Regions from separate parts of the Homo sapiens genome. Here region 1 is linked to region 2. The links come from fine-mapping of genetic effects on gene expression. A gene starts in region 2. The other region holds a variant in brackets. All regions are shown on one strand. Distances are from middle to middle.

Region 1 (2,907 bases), 77 kb after region 2:
GCAAGTCCATACTCAGAAAAGAACAGCTTCAAGGGTTGGAGTCTATTGAACAACCTTCCTAGGAACTGCTAAATAAAGTCATTATCAGTAATAAAATCCTTGTTAATATTAATTATAGTTCAATGGCTACCTTAAGCTTTCTATGCATAATCTCCACAGCAACCCTGTGAGGGAGATTAAAGCAGCCCCATTTCACAGATCAGGAAAAGAGCTCAAGAAGTCCACATCTTTACCCAGTGTGGCACAGCTCGTACATGAGTGGCAGTCAGGGTTTGAACCCGGTCACTTTGGCTCTAGAGTCCGCACTCTTGGCCCATTGTCTGCATTACTCCATCCCCCTAACCCAGCAGATACCTTCCCACAGACTAGTGCCTCGTCTACCTCAGTGCACCTGGTCCCAACACAGTGGAGGAGAAACACTGACAGGCTTCCCTCTTTGTCCCCTTCTCTGTCCTCCATACAGTGCCCCCCCACCCCGCACCCTATACCATGTCTCTGCAAATATCTCTATGCTCTGATGAGGCCATTGCTTCTTCCATGTTTAATCACCTCTTGACTAGCATTCAAGACTAGCTCTGCCTTTCCTAAAGCTAACTGATCTTTTAAAGTGATTCCTGCAGACAGCGCATCTCATCTGCGTGTGCACTCTACTGTTTTAACTCTCTACCTAATTGTATTGCCAAGTCCTAGAAGGCATCTCATTGTAGCCTCTTACAAATGCTGACTGCACACACTTTTATTCTGCAATAAACTTTAATTTAGCATCTCATCCTCATTACAATTCAGTCACTGGGAATTGGTAATGCCCTTAACCCTTACTGTCCCACCCTAGTTCTATGCTGAATGAAGGGAGTAAGAAGGATCTCTGGACTCAGCCTCCCTGCGGTAGGGTCAGGAAGGGGCAGTTAGAGGTCAGATGGAATTCTTCAGGAATCAGGGAGATACGGGAAATTGATGGAAATAAAAAGGCAAAAGGAATGTGCCAAGATTAATAGTGTTTGTTTTAAATTTTCTACTTTTCTGAAATGAAGATACAATTACTTTTACAATCAGAAACGACCCAGTAAGTTATTTTGACGATGTCAACTCCTAGGACAGTGAGTACACATGGAGTCTGATTTTGCTGGATCTGTGCCTGAAAGTGGGTTGAGGCCGTGGCCAAACCTGCTCATGCACCTGCTGGAAGAGACTAGCAGCTGGGCTGGGAGTGTGCGTCATGAAACTAATGGGCCTCCACGGAGGAGTGACCCCTTTCGTGGCTGGAGAGTTCATGGGCCAGGTGGGTTGGAGAAAGGGGTGAGGCTTCATTTCTTCCTGTCTTCCCCAGTCCCCAGCCTGAAGTTGTGTGTGACTCGAGATAGGAGATGAGAAAGCTTGGGATCCGGGGGGACCATCCTGGCCCTGTATGACACCTAGCTGGTCACCTGTTGTCAAACCCCAGTGATTCCTCCCAGGACAAAGATGATGACAAAATACAAGGCATCGTGGATCAGCAGAACACCACAATGTCTGAACAGGGACCTGCAGTTTACGTAGCATCTTCCCAGATGGCAGCTTATCTGCTAGACCCATCAACTCTGTGTGGTGGACAGGGCAGGGATATTGGCGAGTTTCT[T/C]GCGAAGCAGCCAAGAGTTAACTCTAAAGGTCACACGGCAGGAAGTGGCAAGGTCAGAGCCCCAGACTTCTGATTCCAAAGCCAGCCTTGCTGCTTTACCACTTGTTGAGCCGCTGCAACAAAACCCTGCCCTGCTTTGCAGCCCATTTTCTCTTCGCCCCACAGCTGAGGCCACGAGGGCATCCCTTGCCTCGAGGGAACTACAGCTCAGCCCTCAGGTATCGCCCGAGGTTGCCCTTGGTGCCACATCACTCTGTGCGCCAGCCTGGCTTGACCTGGATCTGAGTCTGTCCGGAGAACAGGCATGACCTCGTGCTCAAGCGTGGCCGCTGGGTCTGAGAACTCATCCTGGGAATTGGCCTCGGGTCGGCCTTTTTTTTTATTTTTATTTTTATTTTTTGAGATGGAGTCTTGCTCTGTTGCCCAGGCTGGAGTGCAGTGGCACAATCTCAGCTCACCACAACCTCCACCTCCCGGCTTCAAGCGATTCTTCTGCTTCAGCCTCCTGAGTAGCTGGGACTACAGGCGCCCGCCACCACGCCCAGTTAATTTTTGTGTTTTTAGTAGAGACGGGGTTTCATTATGTTGGCCAGGCTGGTCTCGACCTCCTGACCTTGTGATCCACCCACCTCAGCCTCCCAAAGTGCTGGGATTACAGACGTGAGCTACCGCGCCCACCAGGTCGGCTCTTTCAGCAGCAGCTGCTCCTGTCTCCCTCCCTCCTACCTCCATTGGGATTGGGACCTTTGATACCAATTGCTTCCCTCAACTATTGCATGTCCTCAGTAGCATCCGCTTTGGACTTGCCTCTCGGGCCAGTCTACTTCAGGCGACTGTGTAGATCCTGACTGTCTGATTACCTGGCCACGAGTGTCTCATACCTGCCTCAACCAGGACTGTGTGCAGTAAACAAGAGTACATTTCAGCCCTCATGTTTAGAAGCTGCCTGTGTGAGTTGCAATGCCAAAATTCACAGAGCAAATATAGGCACACCCATTTATCTGCAGAAGGACCTGGAAAAGCCATCCTGGTCTATGAGCATCACCACTCCAAGCGGTCGGACAGGACTCCGGAGCTCTCGGGAAAAGTGGGAAGGCCACACAGTACCAGGAGGGGAGGTTCACCGTGGGCCAGGTGTGAGCTGAACAGGGGATTCCCAGAGCGTGTTTTCCCTGAGAACCTGGAATAATGAGGCAATTCCAGCCTAATTCAGAGGCTGCACTGAGTATGTGGGAAGCACGTCAGATATTTGGGGTTCCCGGGGAAACCAAATGAAGATACCTCGGGAAACC
Region 2 (2,907 bases):
CTGGGCATAAACATGTTCCCACACAGTGTTTGTGCTGAAAGCCTTGTTCCTTGAACAAGCATTCTTCTGTGCGTTTGGCAAATAAGGAGGGGGTGTCCCCTCCTCTTCTGTGTTCAAGGCTGGGTTCTGGCCTTGTTGCAGGGAAACACTAATTCCCAGCAGTGCACCATGGGAGCAAATGGTTTGTTTCCTCTTCAGTGAATCCAGCCTGGGGTCGGTTCTCAGCAGCAGAGCCTGGCATGGAAAATCTATTTGGAGCAACTTGTCCCCAGGAGGGAAGAGTGCGAGCCAACTGTGTGGGGAAGCCGCAGCCACCACAGGGTCAGTCACACCTGCTGGCCAGAGCAGGCGCTAACACAGAAAGGCAGAGTCCTCCGCATACATGAGTCCTGTTTGTGTGCCCACCCACTCCTATGTACCACACACACCCGATTTGATCCGTATATGCCATGTGCACACTCGACATGCCAGATACACGCACTGCACTGCCACACATATACCATACACACACCACTCTGTATTACTAAGCATACCCACCCCCACAACACGTGCACAAGCACATGCACGTCCAACTACACACATATACATATTCTGCACGCCACACACACTCAACCACACACACACCACCCACACTCCACCTCAGTTATAACATTCATTTCACATACACACGTATACACACACCTCACCAGTCACTTGCATCACGCATACCACCCACCATGTACCATGAACACACCTAACCACACACAACCACACACGCATACCCACCATACATACTCCAAATAATCATACACACGCACGCAACACACACATCCCATGCACACCAAACTACACATACGCAGACACACACACACATCAATGCACCCAGCTTTGTTGCTTTCCCGCTCAACGGAGGCGGGGGTGGGAGGAGAAGGGGGAGGGGCTGCGGTCCCGGCGAAGGTTGGGGCGGGCGCGGGAAGGCCCGGGCGCACTGGCCTGGGGTTTGGGGCGAGGCGGGCAGGGGTTGGCGGTGCTGGCCCCTGACGCGCCCTGTGGCCGCGCTGGGGCAGGAGGCCCGCCCTGGGTGGGGGGAGTGCGCGCGTGTGCACGAGCGTGTGCGCGCCTCCCAGGGGCTCCATGCCCAGACACGGGGAGGTGTGTACGAGGGAGATGTGAGACGCCTGTGGGGACAGGCTGTGTGTGTGAGATCCTCGCTACGCGATGCACCCGGCCCGGGCCACTAGGAGGTTCGGGTGGGCGTGGGCCAGGTGTGCGCAGCCCTCCGTGGAGCGTGTGGACGCGTGTGTCAGTTCTCGGTGGCCAGTGTCACTCGGGGGGAAGTGCATATGTAGGCTGGCGTGCATGTGAGTACAAAGCGGCCGAGGAGTGTGTGTTCACCACGGCCCTCCGTCGGGGTCTTTCTCCGAGGAAGGAGTGAGTATGTGAGGAGGACCTCGCTGTGACCGGCGGGGACGCCGACGGCCAAGCTCCCCAGCGGCGTGTGTGTGAGAAGGCCGGGCTCGCTGAGGAACGTCGCGCGGGGCCGACCGGCGCGCGCCTGTGCGCGTGCGTGTGCGCGTGGGGCGCGGCGCGCGCCGCGCCGGAGGGAGGGAGGCTGCCAGCCCGGACCCGGTCGCAGCGCCCGGGGCGGCTCCTCCTCGAGCCTGGGACCGCCGCGCTCCCGCCGCCGCCGCGTGCTGGCGTGACTCCCGGCCCGTGCCGCGCCCTCCCGCGTCCGCAGCCGGCTCGGCTTCCTGCCCACCCAGACGTCGCTTCTCCCGGGCTCCCGGTGTCGGCTCCGCGCGGAGGGAGAGGAAATGAGTGCGGCGGCCTCGCCGGCGTCGGAGCGGGGTTGGAAGAGCGAGAAACTAGATGAGGCTCAGGCCCTGGCGCGGAGTTGCGCCGCCCGCAGACCCGACTTCCAGCCGTGCGACGGGCTGTCTATCTGTGCCACGCACAGCCATGGCAAGTGCTTCAAGCTGCACTGGTGCTGTCACCTAGGATGGTGTCACTGTAAGTCGAGCCGCGTCTTCCCGCCTTCCGCCGCGGTCCGGGGGACGCCCGCCGGGCCGTCCGGGGTCGCTGCCGGAACTCTGCGGCCGCGGGGCTCCGGGCTCTGCCGGGGCTGCTCTGCCGGAGGCTGGGGCCGCCGTGGGCTCCGGGCCCGCCGGAGCTTTCCTTGCGCCGGACGGCTGGGGTTGGCGCTGCCTTGACGACGAGATGAAATCCCGTGGGGCGCCTCGCTTTCTTTAGCTACTTCTACAAAAGGGAGCTCCCTGTCCCAGGGAAGCGGGAATCTGGTTTTTTTTCTTTTCTTTTTCTTTTTTTGACCAAGGCGTCCAGGCGGTGTTTTGAGAAATGGGAGCGAGCCAGCTGAGTTGGCGACAGCTGTTGGGGATGCCTTTTTTCAAGGTTGCTGGTTAAAGATGCTCCTCTTTTTCTTTCTCACTTTTGTCTTCCTGGGCTGCTATTTAAAAGAAGGAGCCCTTGGATATCCAATTGTTTCCCCCTTGATTGTACCCAAATTGAGAAAAAGCGCTAATGTGGGAGGGATTGCTTCCAAGAAGTTAATATTAACAGTTTGGAAGGTCGAGCTCCTTAAATACCCAGATGTAGAATTTAGAGCCAAATAAATGAGACTTATAAAATTACAAAATAAAATGAGTGAAAGTAAGCTTAATAGTCTTAAACCAATTTATAAAAGCTAGAACCAAATGGTCTAAACCCTTTCTCTGTGTTTAGCCTCCTGCCTGTGATTTTTAAATAGATTAAACTTAAGTAGCCATTTAATTAGAATTTCACAATTTGATTAGCTAATAGTATTTGGACTATATCCGATGAATCATTCATTTTAAGAAATATATTCTAAAGTTAGTTTCCACATATATTTGTAATAGAGGGTTTTGGAGTGCTTATTTAGGACATTTTCCA

The links. PIP is the estimated chance that this variant, and not a neighbour inherited with it, causes the effect.
Region 1: its variant is the best candidate, but not a certain one, in a credible set for the expression of C3orf70 in lung (TOPMed, PIP 0.53).

The regions. Positions count from the first base shown.
Region 1 is chr3:185,074,700-185,077,606 of GRCh38, reverse strand. It overlaps C3orf70 (chromosome 3 open reading frame 70), which reads left to right. Exons shown (of 2, transcript NM_001025266.3): 2 at 1-769. Among named protein-coding and RNA genes, the nearest start is that of C3orf70, 77 kb to the left of the region's middle. RefSeq lists an enhancer at 1,991-2,491. The variant T/C (reference allele first, on the strand shown) is at 1,616.
Region 2 is chr3:185,151,710-185,154,616 of GRCh38, reverse strand. C3orf70 (chromosome 3 open reading frame 70) reads left to right here and starts at 1,557. Exons shown (of 2, transcript NM_001025266.3): 1 at 1,557-1,989. The coding sequence starts at 1,794. RefSeq lists an enhancer at 1,372-1,511 and a silencer at 1,932-2,151.